3 separate regions of the Homo sapiens genome follow, and regions 2 and 3 are each reported to be linked to region 1. The links are microRNA targets in miRTarBase. Many come from high-throughput screens and were not tested one by one. Region 1 holds a microRNA gene; each other region holds the end of a gene's coding sequence.
The links. The annotated mature microRNA hsa-miR-6512-3p reads UUCCAGCCCUUCUAAUGGUAGG and lies in region 1 at 1,406-1,427, shown strand. An mRNA with a match to its seed (bases 2 to 7 or 8) in the 3' UTR can be bound and repressed. Matches are read on the target gene's strand: a 7mer-m8 pairs with bases 2 to 8, a 7mer-A1 pairs with bases 2 to 7 and ends in A, and an 8mer does both.

Region 1 (3,268 bases):
AAAACTAGCATAGCTCAAATAAATGTCCTCTTTTTCCAAAGATTATTAAAGAGAGTTTTCTTTTTCTTTAACCCAGCTATTCAAATACTCTATTAGACCAGGACCTGTAATAATACAGGCCTTGTCCAGAAGGGATCAGGTTTCTATGTTATATAATTAGGCAAGACTTTAAATAGTAAGACATGCACCTGTGGTGCTTTTGTCTCTAACTCCACAAATTTCAACATGCATACAAATCAAGAAGGGGTGGGGGTGTTACATGCAAATTCTGCTTCAGTGGGTGTTGGAGCCTGAGATTCTGGCTTTCTAACAAGCTCCCAGGTAAGTGCTGATGCTGCTGCTTTGAGGGCCACACACCTTGAGGAGTAGGAAGAGTACTCATACTGGAAGAGTATTCAGCACGGACTGGAATCCTGCATACATATCTGAGCTCTGTGTTCTGGTATGTATATAGACTTTTTAAAAAAATTAGTAGAGATGGGGTCTCACCATTTTGGCCAGGCTGGTCTCAAACTCCAGGGCTCAAGAGATCCTCCTGCCTTGGCCTCCCAAAGTGCTGAGATTACAGGCATGAGCCACTATACCTGGCTTATATAGACTGCTTCTAAGGTCCATTCTAACTGTACAATTCCATGATTCAGTCACTGTTTGGCTATTAACTAATTTTTTTAGGCTTCTGATTCTCATTGTTTATAAGCTGCTATATTAGAGAATGTTCTGTACTGGAAGGCCAGATAAAAAGTCTTACTTATGGCCAGTAAGTTTTATTTTTCAATCTTCTACAAGTCTGCCTCAACCCATGGGAAATCTTGGCTAATAGTAACATGATACTGGGCTTGGACCATAAACTAAACTTGAGTCAGCAATGTAGGGCTTTGGTTAGATAAGCAAGAATGAACTTGGGAATATAACCAAAAGAAAGGGACAGCTAATCCTACCAGAACAGGCAGTATTTATATGAATACTTTTTTCAAATATCCACAACTGGGAAAAGCTGCTGAACACATAAAGAAAAGTTAAAAGCACGGCATTATTTAGCTAGTGAAAAGAGAACAAAGAATGCCTTAAGAATAATTTTTGAATGGCAGCAGAAACCAGCATATCCTGTGAAGTAAATGCATTTTCAGGACCTCAAAATAGATTTAGGTTGCCTCTAAAGCAGAACTTTCCCATGATAATGATGATCCTAGGTGGTAGGATTGCCAATGGTAATTTTCTTTCCCAAAGATTCTTACAACCAACCATAAACCTACTAGATAACCTATCAGTTGTGTTATTAACTGATATATCAGTTGGGGTTCAGTGCAGACACTTCTCTAGGTACTGAATGCTAAGAATTATATGCTTAAAAATTATATGCTCTTACCATTAGAAGAGCTGGAAGAAGGCTGAGGGAGATGCCTTCTTCCAGCCCTTCTAATGGTAGGAGCATTAAGAGGGATGCTGTTGGGCTCGCAGTTCAGTCCACACAGCTACAATCTAGAGGTCAGGAAGCTATAAAGTCCACTGCTGGCATCACAGTCATTTCTCACAGATGAAGTTAGTGGCAATGCAGAGGCACAGAAAGTCTGGTCATTAAAAACCACATTTAATGTTGCACGTACATCAACAACTACCAGTGAAAACTAATAGGCAGCCAGGCATGTTGGTGCATGCCTGAAGTCCCAAACATTTGGGACACTGAGGTGGGAGGATCCTTGAGCCCAGGAGGTCTAGGCTGCAGTGAGTTGTGATTGTGCCACTGTACTCCAGCCTGGACAGAACAAGAATCTTTCTCAAAAAATAAATAAATAGAGAGAGAGAAGGAGGGAGGGAAGGAGGAAGGTAAAAAGAGAGAGAGAGAAAGGAAGGAAGGGAAAGAAGAGGAAGGAAGGAAGGAAGGAGAAGAGAAAGAAAAGGAAGGAAGGAAGGAAGGAGAAAGAGAAAGAAGGAAGGAGAAAGAAGAGAAAGAAAAGGGAGGAAGGAAGGAAGGAAGGAAAACTAATAGGCAGGGGAAATAGCCTCTCTCTTCCTTTTACCTTTCTAATTTCGCATCATTATATCTGACTGGCACAGTTTAAATTGTTTAACAAATCCTATTAGCAGCTCAGCCTAGAATTATAGTTATTGAGCTTTGTTCCTAACTCAGTATAAATCTATCTTTATTGAAGTATAGCATACAGACAGAAAAATGCACAAATTATAATCAGAGAGCTTGATGAATTTTCATAAAGTAAACACACCTACATATTGCTAGCACCCAGATTGGGAGGCAGAAACTACTACCATACCAGAAGCTCCCTTCATTATCTTTTCTAGGCATTATCCTCCCTCAAATTGACTGTAATCTTGGCTTCTAATACCCTAGACCAATTTGGCCTATTTTTAAACATTAGACAAAATGGAATGATACAGTGTGTATTATTTTATTACTGGCTTTTCCTACTCAACTATTTGTGAGATTCATTCATGTTGAGAGTAATAATAGTATCTTCATTTTCATTGCTGTGTAGTATTCCATTGTATGAATATAACACAATTTATACGTTCTACCAAAGATGGACATTTGGGTTGTTTCCAATTTGAGATTACTGCAACTAGTGCCACTGTGAACATTGGTGAACACACACACACACACATATTTCAGTTGGATATATAAAAGTGTAATTTCTCTGATGCATGGGGTTCAGCTTGAGTAGTACTGCCCAACAGTTTTTCACATCTTCATCAAAACTTGATCTTTTCCATCTTTTAAATTTTAGCCATTCTCTTCAAAGACTAATGCAGTGTATTGAATCTCATTGTTGTTTTCATTTTTCTGATATCAAATAAACACCTTTTTAATTGTTTATTGGCCATTTGGGTACCCTCTTCTGTGAAATGCCTATTCATGTGTTTTGTGTGATTTTCTATGGGCTTGTCTGCCTTTTCTTGTTTTTATAGTCCTTTATTCTGGATATGAGTCCTTTGTCGGGTATATGTATTGATAATATCTTTTGCCACTATGTGGCTTTTTGTTTTTTGTTTTTTTTTTTTGAGATGGAGTCTTGCTCTGTCACCCAGGCTGGAGTGCAGTGGCGTGATCTCGGCTCACTGCAAGCTCCTCCTCCCGGGTTCACGCCATTCTCCTGCCTCAGCCTCCCAAGTAGCTGGGACTACAGGTGCCCGCCACCATGCCCAGCTAATTTTTTGTATTTTTAGTAGAGACGGGGTTTCACCATGTGAGCCAGGATGGTCTCAATCTCCTGACCTTGTGATCTGCCTGCTTCGGCCTCCCAAAGTGCTGGGA
Region 2 (3,133 bases), not on the chromosome of region 1:
TAAGGAAATTCACTCAGTACTGCAGAGACAGCATGGAAGACAAAGACTCAGTCTCTGTGTTTCTGAAAGGTCTTCTCGAACCATATCCACCCACTTCTCAATTTCTACCACAAAAGTAGAAAACGTAACCTTGATTTTCACTTTCTGTCCTGTAACTATAAAAGTCATCTGTAGAAGGTAATTTGGGTCCTCACTTCCATAAATATTCTCTGACTTCCTCTAATAGAAAGTAGGAGAATGTGGCAGTACTGTATATTACAATGTTAGGACTACTTAACATAACGCTGCTTTAAAAGACCAGAATTTGAGACGGGTGAAAGGGCAGGGGCAAGTTTGATTATTCCTAACATCTATGAGGAAGCCTCTGTCTTCCCCATAGGAAGCTGTCCTTTCTTCTCTATTAGTTATATAGGAATAAGAATCTAGAGGAAGCTTTAAACATTCATATTGGAGTTAAGAATTAAAGACACTGAGATGATTAGTGTGTGGATAACCTGAAATACTTTATGGCTCATTCACCATTTCAACATCAACAAGAGGAGAACACCACAAATACGGCAAACTGTCTAGCTGCTCAAGAAAATGGTGCCCCCTTCCTCCCAGGCACACAGCTGGACACATTTCCCAAAATCTCTCTAGGTGGGCCATGTGACGGAGTTCTGTCCAAAGGAACATGGGCGGAAGAGATATGCACCACTTCCAGGCCTGACCCAGAAACATTTTCCACACAGACTTTTCCTTCTTTTCCTATGTGCTCTTTCAACAAAGAGGGCTCTATGGACTGAGAGAAAGGCAGAGCCCCAAGAGGAAGGAGCCTGGGTCGCAGAAAGACTAGGTGGAAAGCTGTCCACTGACCACAAACATCCACATGGGACATCATATGAGAGAGAAATAAACCTGGGAATAGTTACTTAACTTCTTTGGGTCCTAGTCTCTGGGCAAAGAGGAAAAGCTCAATAAATATCAGCTGACATTATATTAGGAAATAAAGTTTACTTCTCCTTAATTTCTTTTTCTTAGGCAAGGCGGAGCACCGGGGGTGAGTGGGATTGGTGAAAAGCACTAAATGACATTTGCCTATTACAAAATGCTAATTGGTACATTTAAATAAGATGACATTGTGACAATAACTCACAGATTAAAGACATTTTCTTCTGGATCCCAGACATTAGATTTTAAGACTGATTTCTTGCTAAAAACACTCAAATCTAGTTAAAATGTGAAATATAAACAGAATGTGGTACCCACTTCTTTCCCCCTGTGACACTGAGTGTCCGGGGATGTTCTAAAACACAATTAACAATCCACATCATTTCTGTGGCTTCAAATTGGCACAAAATCTGTACAAAGAATACTTTGTGCTGCTATAATACTCAACTGATACAGTTTAATTATGATCAACTTTTATTGATTTTACATAAATAGCTTATAGAATGCCTTTACAAACTATGTTTTTGCAATATATTTGTTACAACACACATTTCCTTATGAATGTATTTGTTAAATCTTTTTGCAGAGGAAGTAGGGAAAAGTGAGGGGAGAAGAGGAGGAATAAGATTTTAGAACTAATCGTCAGCAATGGGCCTAGGTATTTGGCAATTATTTCCTTTACAAAAAAATTACAGGTTTGTAACTTCAAACATCAAAAGTGTAGTGCATCAATTTAACTAAAAAATCAGTAGTGCCTAATATATTATCTGGGCATCAAATTTCTTTTTTTAAATATATCCAGATTCACATATTTTTACTCTTATTAAATAATGGTTTTAAATAATAATCATCACAATGTTTAGCTACATAATCCCAGATCTGGATTAAATCATGGTGATATCGATATTTTTAAATTCCAATTTATTTGTTAATCAGTAAAATGTAATAGGTGATAGTGTGTCCAGAGAATGAGCCTCCTATGTGTAGGAAGACGATAGTCTTATTACACCTGCTATCAATTAGGTCATTTACATAGCTGCTAATGTATCAGAATTTTTTTCCACACTGATGTAGTACTTTATTCAAGTCAAAACAAGTTATCATTATCATACCAACGTTGAAGAATTAACCATTCCTGAAACAAGAAACAATCTTTACATTAGTATTTCTTGGTTATGGTGCTTAGTCTTGGTATTATTAAGCACAATGATTCTTAATAAACATGGGTGGATGAAGGCAAATGCATATAGCCTAGTCCCCTCAATAATTTATTCTCCATCTTATTTAAAATTGTTGTTGAGGCTATACAAACTACAGATCTGCTGCTAGAAAGATACAAGTTGTCCCCCGAACAACATCTGGCATTTTAAGCATAAGATTAAAGTCCTGGTGTTCACAGCATCTTCTTCTGACCTACCACTAGGATCATTCCTCAGCAGTGCCCACGATGCTGATTTCCAAATGATACCATTTACTATGTATCTTGACTGTATGGATATTATTTTTTCCTTATTAAAAAAAAGAAATACGATGATATTTCCTTCTTTGTCCTTACTTAAGAATAACTGGGCAATAATCTATTCAGTCTTTGTAAACTCTCCATTGAATAATTTTTCATTCTTACAGCCATTTCCTGAATGGCTGCTGCGCTTTCCCTCTGTCATCTCCTTCACATAACTGAGCGGTCCCTTCCCCTCAAAGGATGAAGGATTTTTGAATGAGCCGCCAATCCTATCCCACAAAGTGAAATATTGTCCATAATTATAGTCAAAGAACATATGGTGGTCTGTATGATGAGCTGAGCCATTAATAAATGGCTGTAAGATTTGGGGGACACGAAAATCACCGTCATGAATGGAAATTGTCCAGATATTAACCAAGATGTACAGACTTAAATAAACCACCTTGTGTAATGGAAAGATAAAAGGGTATATATGGTAAGGTAGACTCTGAAGAAAGCCATCAATAGGGTGAAAAGCATGACTTGCAAATGGAGTAGGAATCTTCCAAATATGGTGAGGTTTATGTAGGCGCTGCAGGAGAAAAGGACACAATTAGCACTGCAAACTTTACCCCGTGCAACATTCAACTTAGCTTCTCACACTCATGTTGGAAACAACCTAACAAATCCTGTAGAGATCAGCAAAATTATTTATTCTATAAAATGTCCTTCTTCGCCCTAAAACAGTATAATTTTATATGG
Region 3 (3,133 bases), not on the chromosome of region 1:
GTTTCAGCACTTGCATCGTCCCCAAGATGCTGGTGAACATCCAGACCGAGAACAAAGCCATCTCCTACATGGACTGCCTCACACAGGTCTATTTCTCCATGTTTTTTCCTATTCTGGACACGCTACTCCTGACCGTGATGGCCTATGACCGGTTTGTGGCTGTCTGCCACCCTCTGCACTATATGATCATCATGAACCCCCACCTCTGTGGCCTCCTGGTTTTTGTCACCTGGCTCATTGGTGTCATGACATCCCTCCTCCATATTTCTCTGATGATGCATCTAATCTTCTGTAAAGATTTTGAAATTCCACATTTTTTCTGCGAACTGACGTACATCCTCCAGCTGGCCTGCTCTGATACCTTCCTGAACAGCACGTTGATATACTTTATGACGGGTGTGCTGGGCGTTTTTCCCCTCCTTGGGATCATTTTCTCTTATTCACGAATTGCTTCATCCATAAGGAAGATGTCCTCATCTGGGGGAAAACAAAAAGCACTTTCCACCTGTGGGTCTCACCTCTCCGTCGTTTCTTTATTTTATGGGACAGGCATTGGGGTCCACTTCACTTCTGCGGTGACTCACTCTTCCCAGAAAATCTCCGTGGCCTCGGTGATGTACACTGTGGTCACCCCCATGTTGAACCCCTTCATCTACAGCCTGAGGAACAAGGATGTGAAGGGAGCCCTGGGGAGTCTCCTCAGCAGGGCAGCCTCTTGTTTGTGATGGATCCCTTGGCCCCAGGACTAAGAAGTTTTGTGAGCACCAATGGCAAAAATGTTTTATTTTGAAATTCTTACTCTTTAAAATTAAAAACATTTTTTTATACTTTGAGAGTACAAATGCAGATTTCTTAACATGCATTTGCATAAGGGTGAAGTCTGAGCTTTTGGCGTACCAATTACCTGAATAGTGAACATAAGGCACTTTTTTTTCTTTTTTGAGACGGAGTCTCACTCTGTCTCCCAGGCTGGAGTGCAGTGGAGTGATCTCGGCTCACTGCAACCTCCGCCTCCCGGGTTCAAGTGATTCTTCTGTCTCAGCCTCCTGAGTAGCTGAGATTACAGGTGTGTGCCACCCATGCCTTTTAGTAGAGACGGGGTTTCACCATCTTGGCCAGGCTGGTCTCGAACTCCTGACCTTGTGATCCACCTGCCTTGGCCTCTCAAAGTGCTGGGATTACAGGTGTGAGCCACCACGCCCGGCCAAGGCAGTTTTTAAACTCTCACTCCCCTCTCACCTTTTGCAGTCTCCAGTGTCCATTATTCTGTTATAATGCCCATGCGTATACATTGTTTAGCTCCCAATTATAAGTGAGATCATGCAGCATTTGACTTTGTTTCTTTACTACCTTACTTAAGAGAATGGCTTCCAGTCCCATCGATGTTGCTGCAAAAGACATGATTTCATCCTTTTTTATGGCTGAGTAGTACTCCATTGTATATATCCTCGATATCTATATAGATATAGACATATGTAGATACATACCATGTTTTCTTTTTTTAAAAAAATTTATTTTTATGTCAGTAGTTTTTGGGGTACATGTGGTTTTTCATTACACGGATGAGTTCTTTAGTGGTGACTTCTGAGTTTTTAGTGTACCCGTCACCCAAGTGGTAGTAGTCTCTTATTCCTCACCCCCCTCCCAACCTTTCTCCCTTCAAGTCACCAAAGTTCATTATATTGTTCATATCCCTTTGTGTCCTCATAGCTTAGCTCCCACTTATAACTGAGAACATACGATATGTTCATATGGATCTTATGTATGTTGGTTGAACATACAAACAAGTCCAGGTTTTTCATTCCTGAGTTACTTCACCTAGAGTAATGACCTCCAGTTCCATCCAAGTTGCTACAAAAGACATTATTTGGTTCCTTTTTATGGATAAGTAGTATTCCATGCTGTACATATACCACAATCTTTATCACTCATTGGTTGATGGGCACTTAGGTTGGTTCCATGCCTTTGTAATTGCTAATTATGTTGCTATAAACATGCAGGTGTATGTGTCTTTTTCACATAATGACTTTGTTTCCTTTGGGTAGATACCCAGTAGTGGAACTGCTGGACTGAAAGGTAGTTCTACTTTTAGTTCTTTTTTTTGTTTTTTTTTTAAGACAGAGTCTCACTCTGTTGCCCAGGCTGGAGTGCAGTGGCGCGATCTCATCTCACTGCAACCTCCACCTCCCAGGTTCAAGCGATTCTCCTGCCTCAACCTCCTGAGTAGCTGGGACTACAGGCACCTGCCACCCCACCCAGCTAATTCTTCTATTTTTAGTAGAGACAGGGTTTCACCATGTTGGCCAGGCTGGTCTTGAACTCCTGACCTCAGGTGATACGCCCACCTCGGCCTCCCAAAGTGCTGGGATTACAGGTGTGAGCCACTGTGCCTGGCCTTCTAGTTCTTTAAGATACCACTTTAAAAAAAGTCCAGTCCTCCATTGATGGACACGTAGGTTGATTCCATATCTTTGCTAATGTGAATAGTGCCGTGATAAACATGGGGGTGTAAGTTAACAATTAATCTCCAAGTAATTTCCTTGATGGCACTTCTGTCCTATGTGCTATTCAAAAATTGTGTCCTTGATCATCGTTCTTAATTCTCCATTAGTGAGTTCTGAACTTGGGTTTGAAGCATTTGCTATAGCTTTGTTATCTCAAGTGGTGGCACAGAGTTCTTAAGCTATTGATTGTTCACTGACTTTATTTCTATGTGTTTGCATGTGGGTTTTTGTTGTTTGTGTGTTCGATCATGAACAGATCAACAGTGTTTATTTGTTTTCCTACTGGATGAAGTATGATTAAAATACGTATTTAAATATAGCTGGTTATATCTCTCTGGTGTCTCTTCTTCTTCTAAGAATATCAGTCCTATTAGATCAGGGCCTGACCCTTATGATTTCAGTAAACTTTAATTACCTCCCTGAGGACCCTGTATCTAAAGACAGTCATCATATTGGGGGTGAGGACTTCACTATATTAATTTTGGGGGGTGCAATTTAGTCCATAAGAGATGTTTATGCAGATCTGAGAAAGTTTCTGCCAACTCTATGGGGAGCTCTAAAGCTAGGGCTGCTCTTTGGAGAATTCTCACATTGTGTAGAAATAACCAGGCCCTATTACCCCAGGAAGC

Region 2: miRTarBase lists SC5D as a target of hsa-miR-6512-3p. The part of its 3' UTR that is shown has no 7-base or 8-base seed match.
Region 3: miRTarBase lists OR7D2 as a target of hsa-miR-6512-3p. Seed matches in the 3' UTR shown: 7mer-m8 at 968-974 and 7mer-m8 at 2,141-2,147.

Annotation. Positions count from the first base shown.
Region 1 is chr2:177,311,970-177,315,237 of GRCh38, reverse strand. It overlaps MIR6512 (microRNA 6512), which reads left to right and starts at 1,356; the gene lies at 1,356-1,432. The region is part of intron 6 of LOC100130691 (Putative uncharacterized protein FLJ44553); the gene reads left to right.
Region 2 is chr11:121,306,887-121,310,019 of GRCh38, reverse strand. It overlaps SC5D (sterol-C5-desaturase), which reads right to left. Exons shown (of 5, transcript NM_006918.5): 5 at 1-2,963. The coding sequence ends at 2,508. Among named protein-coding and RNA genes, the nearest start is that of SC5D, 16 kb to the right of the region's middle.
Region 3 is chr19:9,185,996-9,189,128 of GRCh38, forward strand. It overlaps OR7D2 (olfactory receptor family 7 subfamily D member 2), which reads left to right. Exons shown (of 3, transcript NM_175883.4): 3 at 1-2,823. The coding sequence ends at 725. Among named protein-coding and RNA genes, the nearest start is that of OR7D2, 8.6 kb to the left of the region's middle.